Linked DNA regions of Homo sapiens. Each later gene encodes a partner of the first gene's protein in a complex. Each region holds a gene or a part of one and is shown in the gene's direction. Other genes may lie near its edges.

The links.
Region 2: the proteins of STAP1 (region 1) and LAT2 are in contact, whole or in part, in a crystal structure (PDB 3MAZ), measured with the Homo sapiens proteins. Residues at the interface, in NP_001304698.1 of Homo sapiens: Arg184, Arg203, Pro204, Gly205, Ser206, Ser212, Ile215, Gln217, Ile219, Lys225, His226, Tyr227, Lys228, Glu239, Leu240, Glu241, Tyr255, Phe256, Glu259, Thr260, Arg261, Asn263, Leu264; in NP_054865.2 of Homo sapiens: Asn134, Ser135, Tyr136, Glu137, Asn138, Val139, Leu140, Ile141, Lys143.

Annotation. Positions count from the first base shown.
Region 1 is NC_000004.12:67,554,657-67,561,727, forward strand, and holds the start of STAP1 (signal-transducing adaptor protein 1), read left to right. Parts: upstream 1-4,070; 5' UTR 4,071-4,153; coding exon 4,154-4,273; intron 4,274-7,071. UniProt on the Homo sapiens protein: In BCR signaling, appears to function as a docking protein acting downstream of TEC and participates in a positive feedback loop by increasing the activity of TEC.
Region 2 is NC_000007.14:74,205,287-74,213,022, forward strand, and holds the start of LAT2 (linker for activation of T-cells family member 2), read left to right. Parts: upstream 1-4,719; 5' UTR 4,720-4,802; intron 4,803-7,736. UniProt on the Homo sapiens protein: Involved in FCER1 (high affinity immunoglobulin epsilon receptor)-mediated signaling in mast cells.

The DNA of each region.
Region 1 (7,071 bases):
AAAAGAAAAAGAAAATGTGGCTTAACTCTATCAATAGTAATAAAAAATTTACTCATAATAAAGATTGTATTGGATTCATACCAGCCATTGATAAGCTATAAGTATTTCACACAATGGTTAAAATTAAAGTTGTATTCTTCAGGTATGAGTTGCAAAAATAAATGTATTCAATTAAAATATCTTAGAAATATACTACCGCAAATTATAATGCATATGGCAATAAATCATCAGTAAGTATTAAGCAAAACAAAGGTCAGAAATGTGGAAGTACTGGAGCAGGGTTGGTTGATTTGATTGATTCAGTACTAATAAATGGATAGAAAAGTATTTTAGAGATCCTCAATTATTGTAAAAAATGTGGATTTTTACTCAGATGACCTTATAACATAGAGGAGTCAATACAGCACTGAGATTTTGGTTTATATGAGTTAAATCTTATACTTCACCCAAAGTTGTTAAGTTATATTTGCCATAAAACCTGATTTGTAACAATCTTCTGTGACACAGATGCTACTGATGGCTGTAATGTTGGGCTCCAATAGTTTAATAGTAACATGATTGTTCTACAAGGCAACACAAGAATCATATGTCAACCAATGGTCACATATATCAGAAAAAAGGAAACTCCTGTCACAATGGAAGCTAATAATTCTCCAAACTAGAATCATATTTTTTAGCTAGAAGCTATTCAGTAAATATATGATATTGCAATCTACTTATAACCAACCCCTACTTCAACACAATCTTTCCTTTGGAAAAACTGTTTCTTGTTGATACTCAATGTATACAAATAACTACAACAGGACAAATACTATAAGAAAGAAATCGTGCAAAGTGCTTTGGGAAAGCAGAAATGAGAGTAATAACTTTTTTTTTTGTGGGGGTGAAGAAAGCTTCAGGAAATTAGGAGATGTTCAGAATTAAGGATAGATTCAGCCTGGGTCTTGAAGGACGAGTAGGACATTACCATATAAACAAAGAGAAGGAGGGGCATCTAAGCAGAGTACAGTGACTGAAAAGGTATGAGGAGACAGGGAAGATCATAGGGTATTCAGGCAACTGAGACTAAATGAAATTACCAGAGCAAAGGGTATTTTGAGGAGTTATTATTTAAAAGGGGCCCTGCTATAAAGGACCAACGTGCCATGCTTGAGCCCATTGTTGGTATTCAATAAGTATTTAGTGTTCAATAAAAAATATTTAAAAAGGAATCTCAAAAGCAATGAGAATCCTTTAAAGTCTTTTCAGTAGGGGAATATCTTGATTAGGTTGAATATTAAATGAATCAAAGAAGAAAAAGAGTGGAAACTAGGAGACTACTTAAAAGCCTTTTGCAGCTCTTCAAACAATAAGTCATGTAGTCCATCGCCTCCTTGTATAGGTGAGGAAGCTATGATACCAGAGAAGTCAAGTGGTTTGTTCAAGGTCTCAAGAGCTGGTTAGTAGCAAAATTAGTTTATGCCCTATGTCCAAACATATTTTCTACTATATTTCCTTACCTACAAATTTATTCTTCACTGCCTAAGACTTGAGGTATCTGTAAGAGGATTTCCATTGTAATGGTGCAGTGGTGCAATGACACTAGTCATTGCAGACAGGACTAACTTGTTAATATTGTTTAAGCAAGATTTTTGCATTTTGTAGTCTTTTTCAGGGAGATATAATTTGATTCTTGGTATATTAAGAATGAATTTGACGAACAAATCAGCAGACCAAAGTAACTTACTGTGTCTGATTAGCTGTTTTTAAATTGTTGCTTATATTTTAAAGGCAAAAAAAAAACTAAGTGCTTATTTAACAACAACAAAAAATCCCCTTTACATTTTTTTAGAGGTATTATTTTCTCTCACCTATGAAACTTTCTGACCATAAAGTCAGTGCGTAATCACTGATGATTCCCAGCATTCTTTCTTTATCCTTGCTTCTTTTCATTTTTCAATTCTTAATCCCTCCTTTCACTTCCCCCCTGTATTACAACAACTAACAGCTGCCAAGAAAGTGGATTAGGTCATATATTCAATCAGGAGGTTTTCCTGTTATTCAAGTCACTTTCTTAGTATACCGAAACTAAAAAATAGTTATGGTTTTTGCCTCAAAAAATTCAGTTGGACTTATATTTTATTATTTGAAGGTTGGGTAGCAAGAAGCAGGTCTAAACTTACAAAAGCAAAGCAGTCATTTTGGATCTTCAACTCCCTATTTCTGTCTTGAGCTGTTTTCATTTTGATAATACATCTGAACACTCTTCTCTAACTTACTGATAATCAGTCCGTATTGTTCTACCTCACTTTGTAGACAATTTGTCATCCCATATCTACAGCTGCAGGATCAGTGGGACCCATACTGGTGGAGAAAACCATGCAGTCTCTCCATTAGGAAAGGAGAATCAGACTGAAGACTCCTGACTTGCTTTGATTTCTAATAATAGGCTGGTCTCACTGGGCCCAGGCTGTTCTAAATCTAGAGTAGTTCTGAAATACTGAGTGTGAAATAGGCAATGGTAGAAATTCTTAGGACCCCTGTAAGACAAATCAAAATTCCTTCTAGTATTCTTTTCTCCCATCATTTCCTGCACTGTGCTACGCCAAATCCAATCTCTTAAGGACCATTTCCTACATGCAACCATTGAGTGCACTTTGGCCCCAGTATAGCTTTATAAATCTCACTAGATAACTGTGGGAAGTCCATCCATGAATCATAGTATCAATGGTCTGCAGCTCAGAAAGCACAAAAGAACAAAATAAAAGTTTGAAAACTTACAGCTTTCTCTGCCAGATATTTTTTTGCCAAATATCTTAGACTCCTTTGTGTTGCTGTAACAGAATGCCACAGACTGGTAATTTATAATGAACAGAAATGTATTTCGCTCATGGTTCTGGAGTCTGGAAGTCAAAGAACATGGCCAGCATCTGATGAGGACCTTCATGCAGCATCATTCCATGGCAGAAGATAGAAGAGCAAGAGAGGATGATAGCATGTGAGAAAGTGCCAAACTTGATTTTATAAAAAACCCACTTCCAGGCCAGGTGCAATGGCTCACACATGTAATCCCAGCACTTTGGGAGGCCACAGCAGGAGAATCGCTTGAGCCCAAGAGTTTGAGACCAACCTGGGCAACATAGGGAGATACTGTCTATACAAAAAATGAAAAAGTTAGCTAGGAGTGGTGGCGCGTGCCTTGTAGTCCCAGCTACTTAGGAGGCTGATGTGTGAGGATTGTTTGAGCCTGAGAGGTCAAGGCTGCAGTGAGCTGTGATTGCACCAGTGTATTCCAGCCTGGGCAACAGAGCAAGACCCTGCCTCTGAAAAAAGAGAAAGAAACCCACTCCCACAGCATTAATTAATTCATTCATTCATGAGGGCAGAGGCCTCATGACTTAATCACCTTCTAAAAGTCCCATTTCTAAACACTGTTGCATTGGGGATTAAGTTTCTAACACATAAGTTTTGGAGGACACATTCAAAACATAGCACTAAATATTCATTGGGAACTCATGTACTTGGAATATCTACTGGCAAAAAAAAAAAAAAAAGAAAGAAAGAAAAAAGAAAAAAATTCCATATTCCGTGTTCCCATAATTGTGGTTTATATTTAGTGAAGCATCAAATGAGCATGAGATACAACTATTTTTTTTATTTACACAAAACTTGACCCTAAAATATTTAACCAACAGAAGTAGTACTAATAAAATTATTCTATGAAGTAATTTTTAATGAAGCTGAGTTTATTCAAGTCATGTCTTCTGCAAATAAAAATGGACACCAATAAACAAAAACAAAGATAGAAAGAATAACTGTGTTCTTGATATCTCCCCTAAAGTTCACAATCTCTACACCTGTTTCTTTCATCTTCTGGTGATGTTAATCTTCTGTTTATTTTGCGCTTTAAATCTAAGCACATGTGGATTACCCAGAGATTGCCCTCTGAAAGTCAGTCTACACCTGTTCTTTCTTACCTCACAAAAAGTAATGGAAAAAAAAGTGTGTGTGTGTGTGTGTGCGTCTGTGTGTGTGTGTGTCCTGTTGGTGGTAGTGTTGGTGGTTAAAAAGCAATTTGGGACTTCCTCTTTGAACAGTTGCCTTTTCCTCTCACAGAAGGAAGATTTCATTTTGTTTGAGACGAGAAACCAAACCACACACCAAAGAGAGGGGTATGATGGCTAAGAAGCCCCCAAAACCAGCCCCTCGCAGGATCTTCCAGGAAAGGTTAAAGATTACTGCTCTACCTTTGTACTTTGAAGGTTTTTTATTAATCAAGCGGTCAGGATACCGGGTGAGTCTATAGATGATAATGTTAAACCTAAGACTTCTGTTTTAATTTAATATTTATTTCATGGTGATGTGATGTGTTAAGACCTCCTTGTTTCTGTTGAAATTAAATCATCTTCTCTTCTTTGAGCTCAGAAAAATGATTCCAATTTTTCATAATTTAAATACAATGTCTGGCTTAAACCTGTATGTATACACATATATAATATGTATAATAACAGAGGTTGTAATATTAAGGCACTAATATAAAAAAGTCAATAAGCTAAATTTCCAAAGAATTTATTTAAATATCACAAAAGATTTTGGCTTGGGAGATAAAATGTTTCTTGTATTTTCTCCACAATTTATTGCTATGCTTCAATGATGACATGTACCATTAAGATAAAATGATATCATGATTAAAATTAAACCTGCTCCTGTTCTGAGTCATTTGAAGTTTATAATGATCAAATTATTAAAAATGGCTTTTGTAAAAATTGTTAAAATGACAAAGTTCATACTGTTTAACATTATATATAGTTATGTGTTCTAAAATACTATTCAAGATAGTGACTTTTAATTTTTGGGGTACTACTGTGGGTATTAAGTACACTAAGCTACATAAATACCTTTGCTCTAAGAAAATCCATGAAGCATTCTGTATTTTTAAATGTAATAATTAAAACTTATAGTTAGTTAAAATCATTACTTTTAAAACAGTAATTATGGATGACTTGAAATTAATTAGAGAAATAAGCCCAAAATTGCCTGTTATTAAATAAAAAAATCATTAAGTTAGGTCAAATTTTATGAAATTGTATACTGACTAAAACTAGAAAAATTTTAAGGTTTTCAGAAATTCCATCAGAAATGTTTAATGATGCTAAAATATATTTTCTGAGGATTTATGAATACTTGTGGAAAAATTATATATATGAAAAATCTATAATAGCATATTCACATTTCTTACATATATAATCAGATCATTTACTATTTGAGAGTAAAGACATGGTAATTTGTATTCTGTTATGGATGTTAAACATGCATAAATAATTACCTTTCAGTTATATTAGAATTTTTTAGATTGATCCTATATGCTTTTAATGTAAATTCAATCTTGTCACCACAGGTAAGCCACATAGTCACACTTTGCCAGGAAAGGGAAGTTGAGAAAAAAAAATTCTAATTAGTAATTTAAATCAGGTTGTTCATTGAATGTTTTCCAAGGTATTTATAATAACTGTTTATGATAGCAGTTTTTTTTAAATGCTTAAAGAAGACATGTCATTGGTATGGTTAGCAGAAAGAATAAGAATTTTAGAGTGTCCTTTATCTGATGGTTTTGCCACTTATAGCTTGTGATCTTGTGCAAGTTACTCAATCTCCTTGAGACTGTTTCAACTATAAGATAGAGAGTATACTACTTGCTACTTGCCTCCTAAGGTACATTCTAGGATTCAGTAGGTGTTCAATCAATTTATTCACTCAACATTTATTGTGTGCCTCCTATGCACCAAGCATCACTCATTTCTGGAGAATATGGAAAAAAACACAAAGATTTTATTTTCAAGAGGCTTAATATAGTAGGAATGATGTCTTCCTTACCAAATTTCTACTCTTTACCTTCTCTTAGAAAGCATTCTTTGAAGCAGAATGAATACCTATAGGCATAAATATTTCCAATGAAATTAACTTGTGTTTCTATTTGAATTTATAGTAAAGTATCTTTGTGTGTGTGGGTGTGTGTCTGTGTGTGTGTGTGTGTGTGTGACAGTGTCTCCTCTGTTGCCCAAGCTGGAGTGCAATGGTGCAATCACTAGTCATGCAGCCTTGACATCCCCGGCTCCGGTGATTCTCCTGCCTCAGCCTCCTGAGTAGCTGGGACTACAAGCGCATACCACACCCGGCTAACGTTTGTATTGTTTATAGAGACAGGGTTTCATCACGTTGTTCAGGTTGGTCTCAAACTCCTGGGCTCAAGCAACCTGCCCACCTTGGCCTCCCAATGTGCTAGAATTACAGGCATGGGCCTCTGAGTTAGACCACTAAGTACCTTTTACTTGTATGTCAGGGAGAAGAGAGCAAGAGGATGACAATAATACCTACTTATGTGGTGGTTTCAGGGATTAAAGGGATAGCATATGTAAAACACCTGGCTCACACTAAAGGTTAGATTCATTCTCTTACCCTTTCATCACTTATCATACTCTTATTCAGGTACTAAAATTAGTTTGAGGTCTGCAAGTAATATGACTCCAAGGAGAGTGAGCATGGTGATAATTAGAGTACTTGAAAATAGAAGCTATGAGAAAAATCTAAGCAAAATAAGTGGAATTTCCAAGCAATTGGCAGCAAAGTGCCAGGGAATCTTTGAACAGAAGGTGAGCCAAAGGTATATAGCCAAGTAATCTTTGGAGCTGATTGGCTAGAGGAAGGTGAGAGGCTCTGCAGAATGTAAAGTTGGGTCTCTGCCAAAGTCATTCAGAACATTTAAACTAGAAAAAATATAACTGAAGAGTAACCTGGTCTATAAAGGCATGAAATGCTGAGAGGTGCTTCTTAGCTATTTTTTGTGGGGCACTTTTAAGTATTTAAAGAGCTTTTCCCCAGGAAAATGTAACAACGTATACCATTTTGCATGCAATTCTAGAAGGTTTCTAAATCTGAGGTCAAGAACCCATGAAAAACACATAATCTTTATGGAAAAGATAATGTGGGAAGATTTATTTAAGCCACAGCACTAGGATTCTGAATTAACCAGGAAGATGTGTTTATTATCAAAGCTGTTAAATGCCACAGTGGAATACCATTGGCATCGCAGTT
Region 2 (7,736 bases), on another chromosome or scaffold:
TGTGCAAGACCAGACTTATTGGCTGGGTGCCGTAGCTCACGCCTGTAATCCCAACACTTTGGGAAACTGAGGCAGGTGGATCACCTGAGGTCAGGAGTTCGAGACCAGCCTGGCCAACATAGTGAAACCCAGTCTCTACTAAAAATACAAATATTAGCTGGGTGTGGTGGTAGGTGCCTGTGATCCCAGCTACTAGGGAGGCTGAGGCAGGAGAATCGCTGGAACCCAGGAGGCAGAGGCAGAGGTGAGCCGAGATCATGCTACTGCACTCCAGCCCGGGTGACAGAATGAGACTCCATCTCAAAAAAAAAAAAAAAAAAAAAGACCACGCTTCTGTCTGTAAGATCGTTTTGCATATGAGGTCCTTTCACAGACCATTTCCCTCCAGCACCTACCAGTGCCCAGGCCCGTGAAGGAAGCAGGGAGCTAGAACAGAGCAGGTAGGCTGGGTGCGATGGCTCATGCCTGTAATCCCAGCACTTTGGGAGGCTAAGGTGGGAGGATCACTTGAACCCAGGCATTCAAGAACAGCCTGGGCAACACAGTGAGACCCCATCACTACAAAGTTTTAAAATGAGCCAAGCACAGTGGCCTGCACCTGTAGTCCCACCTACAGGCGAGGCAGAGGTGGAAGGATCACTTGAGCCCGAGAGTTGGAGGCTGCAGTGAGCTATGATCTTGCCGCTGCACTCCAGCATAGGTGACAGAGCAAGACCCTGTCAAAAAAAAACAAAAACAAACAAACAAAAAACAAAAACCAGAACAGACTGGGTGCAGTGTAATCCCGGCACTCTGGGAGGCCGAGCAGGCAGATTACTTGAATCCAGGAGTTTGAGACCAGCCTGGCCAACATAGTGAAACCCCGTCTGTACTAAAAGTACAAAAAATTAGCCGGGCGTGGTGGCAGGTGTATGTAATCCCAACTACTCAGGAGGCTGAAGCAGGAGAATTGCTTGAACCCGGGAGGCAGAGTTTGCAGTGAGCCGAGATCGCCGCACCGCTCTCCAGCCTGGGTGACCAAGCAAGACCCCATCTAAAAAAAAAAAATGAGAAAAAAAGAAAGAAAAAGAACAGCAGGTAAGTCCTGTCCAGGTGCATAGTCTGGGGCTGGAGGGAAACAGATGCAGGTTTGTTCCCATTGTGTGAGGAGGAGCCAGTCAGGGGGTCCCAGCAAGGAAGCCAGGCTTTGGCCTCTGGGTTCAAATCCAGCTTCACCTCTGTGAGCCTCTGTCTTCTTACCGGTTACCGTGGGAAGGAAACGTGGTCCTGAATCCAGTGCACTTGGCATTGCTGGATGGAACAAGGGAGGGTGGCGGTTGCTCGCACAGGCACAGGTCTGGGCGTCTGATGGCCCTAGCTTCAGTCCTAGTCCGGCCACAGAGGGAGGCAGGGTGAGCTCCTGACACGGACGCCTGCAGAATCTCTCAGAACCGGTCTCTGGAGCATGTGCTACCCTCCTTGTCCACGAGGTGGCAGCAGCGGGCCTAGCCGCTCGTCTCCGCGGCCACCTCTTTCTGGCCAGGCCGGGACACCGCGGCCAAGGCTAAAAGAGAAACCTAGCCCCAAGCTGAGAGTGGGACCCCAGAGCCAGGGTCCCAGGCCTAGAGGCGTCCAGGACTGGGGGCCAAGGTTCTGAAATGCCAGACATATAGGAGGTGGGGGACCGTCATGCTCTTCCCTGGTGTCTCCAGCAGGTGGGATAAACACCGGGTTCAATGGGACCAGGCGCGGTGGCCTCACGCCTGTAATCCCTGCACTTTGGGAGGCTGAGGATGGAGGATCGCTTAAGGCCAGGAGTTCAAGACCAGCCTGGGCAACATAGTGAGACCTTGTCTCTACAAAAAAAAAAAAATACAAAAATTAGCTGGGCGTGGTGGCATGCACCTGGGGTTCCAGCTAACTCTGGAGGCTGAGGTGGGAGGATCGTTTGAGCCTGGGAGGCAGAGGTTGCAGTGAGCTGAGATTGCACCACTGCACTCCAGCCTGAGTGACCGGGTGAGACCCCATCTCAAAAAAAATTTTAAAAAAGGGGAAAGAACAGCAGGTAACCTCTATCCAGGTGCACAGTCTGGGGCTGAAGGGAAACTGTTGCAGGCTTGTTCCCATTGTGTGAGGAGGAGCCAGTCAGGGGGTCCCAGTGAGGAAGCCAGGCTTTGGGGTCTGGGTTCAAATTCAGCTTCACCTCTGGACCGAGTGAGACCCTGTCTCAAAAAAAAAAAAAAAAAGCAGGCGAGGAATAGAGACAGAGGGTCAGACAGCAAGAGTCCCAGAGGATGAGACAGATGGACACAGAGACAAAGGATGCGGGATGTAGGTGGGCAGGGCAGGGACAGAGAGACCCCTGCAGAGGCCACGAGGGCAGGGCAGATGGAACAAGTGACCAAAGACAGGTGGAGGAGTGGACGGCACGAGTGTCAGAGGCTGCAGACAGCGAGGGCGCTAAAGGGTGGGAGAAGGAAGGAGAGCCCTGCTCCACCCCAGCCTTGGGGGTCTCATCACCCCACTGCACAGATGAGGCTCCTGGCATCGGGGTGCAGAGAACGGCTCATAGCACAGGCAGAGGGACCACAGCCCACTCCTGCCCAGCGGTGCTCCTGTGCCCAGCCCTGGGGTGGACACCGTGGCTGCCATCCACACAGACATGAGGACCGAGTGAGATAGTTCCCTGTGGAGGCCAGGATGCTCTGGCACCTGAGGTCAATAAAGCCACATCCCACAAGTGGGTGGACTGCCTTGTGCTATTGACCATTAAACAGCTGCCCAAGGCCATTGAGCTATTAATTAAATAATAATTATTATTATTTTAAATTTTTTTGTTGTGTTTTTTGGGTTTTTTTGTTTTTGTTTTGTTTTTTTGAGATGGAGTCTCGCTCTGTTGTCCAGGCTGTAGTGCAGTGGCACGATCTTGGCTCACTGCAAACTCCGCCTTCTGGGCTCAAGTGATTCTCCTGCCTCAGCCTCCCAAGTAGCTGGGATTACAGGCACCCACCATCACACCCGGCAAATTTTTGTATTTTTAGTAGAGATGGGGTTTCACCATTTTGGCCAGGCTGGTCTCAAACTCCCGACCTAAATAAGGTGATCCACCTGCCTTGGCCTCCCAAAGTGCTGGGATTACAGATGTGAGCCACCACGCCCGGCCTATTTATTGTTTTTACAGACAGACAGGGTCTTGCTGTCCCCCAGGCTGGAGTGCAGTGGCAGAGTCACGGCTCACTGCAGCCTCCAACTCTTGGGCTCAAGAAATCCTCCCGTTTTGGCCTCCCAAAACACTGGGACTACAGGTGTGTGCCACCACACCCAGCTAATTAAAAAAATTTTTTTAGAGATGGGGTCTCGTTCTGTTGTCCAGGCTGGTCTCAAATTCCTGTTCTCAAGCGATCCTCCTGCCTCAGCCTCCAAAAATGTTAGGATTGCAGGTGCAAGCCACTGCACCTGGCCTCTATCTCCCTGTTTCTTGCTCTCTCCCCATCTGTGTGTGTCTCTGACAGTCTGTGGCTCTCTGTATCTTTCTGTGTGTCTCTCTGTGTGTGTCTTGGTCCATCTCATGCCCAGCTAATTTTTAAATTTTTTGTAGAGATGGGGTTTCACCATGTTGGCCAGGCTGGTCTTGAACTCCAGACCTCAGGTGATTCTCCTGCTTCAGCCTCCCAAAGTGTTGGGATTACAGGCATGAGCCACCGTGCCTGGCCCATGGGTATGAATTTCTGCCTGTGTGTGTCTTCTTCTTTTTTTTTTTTTTTTTGAGATGAAGTCTTGCTCTGTCACCCAGGCTGGAGTGCAGTGGCGCTATCTTGGCTCACTGCAACCTCCACCTCCTGGGTTCAAGCAATTCTCCTGCCTCAGCCTCCCGAGTAGCTGGGATTACAGGCACCCGCCACCACACCCAGATAATTTTTGTATTTTTGGTAGATATGGGGTTTCACCATGTTGGTCAGGCTGGTTTTGAACCCCTGACTTCATGACCTGCCTGCCTTGGCCTCCCAAAGTGCTGGGATTACAGGCATGAGCCACCGCGCCCGGCCCATGGGTGTGAATTTCTGCCTGTGTGTGTCTTTTTAGCGTATGTGTGTCTCCATATCTGCCATCTGCAGGAGCACCTCAGTTTCATTATCTTGCTCCCTGTCTATTGGAGTGTATCTCTCTTCCTCTCTGTGTGACTTTTTGTGTTTATGTGTGTGTTTAGTGTGTGTCCATATTTTCCTGTTCTCTTGTGTCTCTCTGCTGTGTCTCTCTCTTTTTCTTTCTGTTTTTTGAGACGGAGTCTCCCTCTGTCACCCAGGCTGGAGTGCAGTGGTGCGATCTCGGCTCACTGCAACCTCTGCTTCTGAGGTTCAAACGATTCTCCTGCCTCAGCCTCCCGAGTAGCTGGAATTACAGACACATGCCACCATGCCCAGCTAATTTTGTATTTTTAATAGAGACGGGGTTTCACCATGTTGGCCAGGCTGGTCTTAAACTCTTGACCTTACGTGATCCACCCGCCTCGGCCTCCCAAAGTTTTTGGATTACAGGTGTGAGCCACCTCGCCCGGTCCTATCTCTCTTTCTTCTCTTTCTCCCTCTCACTTTGTTTCTCTTCTCTCTCTCTCTCCCGCCTCCTTCCCCCGTCTCCCCTCCCTTCCCCCCACCGCCCTCTTCATAGCTGAGCCTGTCCGGCAGTGCGGCGGATGTACGGATGATTCAGTGGCTGGCAGGAAGCCCGCCCTGCCCGCCCGCCAGTGTCAGTGGTGTTGGCATCAGCTTGGGCAGGTGTGCGGGCTCAGGATGGGGCGGCCGTGGTGAGGAACCCTGGACTCTCAGGTAAGCCTTTCCCAGGGGTGCCTCAGTCCTCAGGCTGTCCCCCATCCCCCAGGAGCTCCTGGCCCCACTGGGTGGGGTGGGAAGAGGCCTGGATGCCTGGCGCCCCCTCCCGCAGCCCCACTCTCACCCTGGCACCAGGCTCTGTGGCACTTCAGGGGTCAGTTTGTTTCTGGGCTTCTGGCCACTCTCTTGCCCTCGCCTTCCCCTGTCCAGCCTGTGTAGCCTTGGGACATCCCAGGGTGGTCCCATCATTGCCAGAGACTGGTGAAGTAAGTGGCCGAGAGCCAAAACAGTGGCTGCCCTGGCCTGGGAGCCTCGGTTTCCTCATCCGTGAAATGGGACTGTAACCCCCTACACAGGTCAGGGGAAAACGGTGGGATTACAGGCCAGGGCCCAGGTCTTGCCCCAGGTCAGGTGAAGAACCCCCACTGCCTCCCTGCCCAGCCCCCTACCTGGCCCTCAACTCTGTCCCTGGGACCAGGGCTGCTCAGGCCCCTCCTGCACCCGCCCGCCTCCCTCTCTCCCTCCCAGCTAGGCTCATTTGAAGCCCAGAGTTATTTGGAAAAAGCAACAGGACCAGCCGGGCACGGTGGCTCAACCTGTAATCCCAGCATTTGGGGAGGCCAAGGCGGGAGGATCATTTGAAGTCAGGAGCTGGAGACCAGCCTGAGCAACATAGTGAGACTCCCATCTCTTTAAAAAATAAAAATAAAAAAATATAATTAAAAACTAAATGAAAAAACCAACAGACCCCAGAGCAGAGTCCAGTGGATAAAGCCATCCAGGGCTTCAAGCCAGGCTGCCCCCTCCCCAACCCCAGTGTCCCCAACCACAGCTCAGCTCGGAGAAGGCTGGGAGAACCGGCAGGGTGGTCTCGAGCGTCCTTCCAGGCGGGATTCAGACACTGTAGCTCCTCCAGCCCAGCCCCGAGAACTTCCCCGAAGCCAGCTCTTGGCAATCGTTGTTCATATGAAAACTGCCCACTTCCCTTTAGTGCTATTTTGGCCTCTGCAGAACCGTGGTCTGTGGCAGCCCCCACTCCCCACCCCGCCCAGCCCTGCCGGCCCCTGGGGGCCTCAGAGGGTCCACCCTCCGCTCCCTCCACCTCAGCCCACCTGCTTTCAGAACCTGGATGGGAGAGTGAAAGTGAGAGCGAGACAGAGACACAAAGGGAGACAGAGACAGAGAGAGAGCACAGAATTTTTTTAAACGGAGTCTCACTCTGTTGTCCAGGCTGGAGTGCAGTGGCGTGATCTCGGCTCACTGCAACCTCCACCTCCCAGGTTCAAGCAGTTCTCCTGCCTTACCCTTCCAAGTAGCTGGGGACTACAGGCACGTGCTACCACACCTGGCTAATTTTTTATTTTTTATTTATTTTTTATTTTTTGGAGACAGTCTTGCTCTGTCTCCCAGGCTGGGAGTGCAGTGGTGCAATCTTGGCTCACTGCAAGCTCCACCTCCCGGGTACATGCCATTCTCCTGCCTCAGCCTCCCGAGTAGCTGAGACTAGAGGCGCCTGCCACCACGACCGGCTAATTTTTTGTATTTTTAGTAGAGACGGGGTTTCGCCATGTTAGCCAGGATGGTCTCAATCTCCTGACTTTGTGATCTGCCTGCCTCGGCCTCCCAAAGTGCTGGGATTACAGGTGTGAGCCACCGTGCCTGGCCTAATTTTTTATTTTTAGTAGAGACAGGGTTTCACCATGTTGGCCAGGCTGGTCTTGAACTCCTGACCTCAGATGATTTGCCCGCCTCAGCCTCCCAAAGTGTTGGGATTACAGGTGTGAACTACCGCACCCGGCCAACAGCGCAGGATGTATTCAGTCTGGGGGCAGACACATGACTGTTTGTTAAATTTCATTTTTTGTTTTTAGAGATGGGGTCTTGCTCTGTCACCCAGGCTGGAGTTCAGTGGTGTGATCTTGGCTCACTGCAGCTTCCAACTCCTGGGCTCAAGCAATTCTCTTGCCTCAGTGTCCCAAGTAGCTGGAACCACAGGCATGTGCCACTGCGCCTGCCTAATTTTTTCATTTTTTTGTAGAGACAGGGCCTTGTTACATCGTCCATGCTGGTCTCGAACTCCTGGCCTCAAGCGATCCTCCTGTCTCGGCCTCCCAGTGTTGAGATTACAGGCGTCAGCCACCACGCCCAGCCTGATCCCATTTTATTTATTCATTTATTTAATTTATTATTATTATTATTATTATTTTGAGATGGAGTCTCACTCTGTCTCCCATGCTGGAGTGCACTGGCGTGATCTCAGCTCACTGCAACTCACTGCCTCCTGAGTTCAAGTGATTCTCATGCCTCAGCCTCCCAAGTAGCTGGAATTACAGGCTTGCACCTCCACGCCTGGCTAATTTTTGTATTTCTAGTAGAAACAGGGTTTCACCATGTTGGCCAAGCTGGTCTCAAACTCAAGTGATCCTCCTGTCTCAGCCTCCCAAAGTATTGGGATTACAGGTGTGAGTCCCTGTACCCAGCCCGACCTCATTTTATAGATGAGAAAACTGAGGCGGGGGGCTCTCAGGCAGAGGCTAGATTTGGTCCCATGAGCCCTCCTGCAAGACAAGTTGCTCCAACCTCACAAGCCTGAGATGAACTTGGGCCATGCTGGAGGGGTTGGGGGTACACCCCGGGTTGGGGGCACTGAGGCAAGGAGAGTTTCGAGGAGGGAGAAGGGCAGTGCCCAGGCGGGCCATGGGGAAGAGAGAGCAGAGCTTTCCTCGGACAACCTCCCGGGGTGACGTGGGTCGTGCCAGTCACACGGCTCAGAAATTCACTTGTTCCCACTGACTCACTTGGCTTTTGGGGAGAGGCCTGGTGGCTTCTCTGTGATGCGCCTCTTACAGAGGCTCAGGGCCGCATGGAGATTCCCTGTCATCTTACCGCAGGGATTTGGGAAGTCCAGAGAGGTCCTGAGACTTGTCCAAA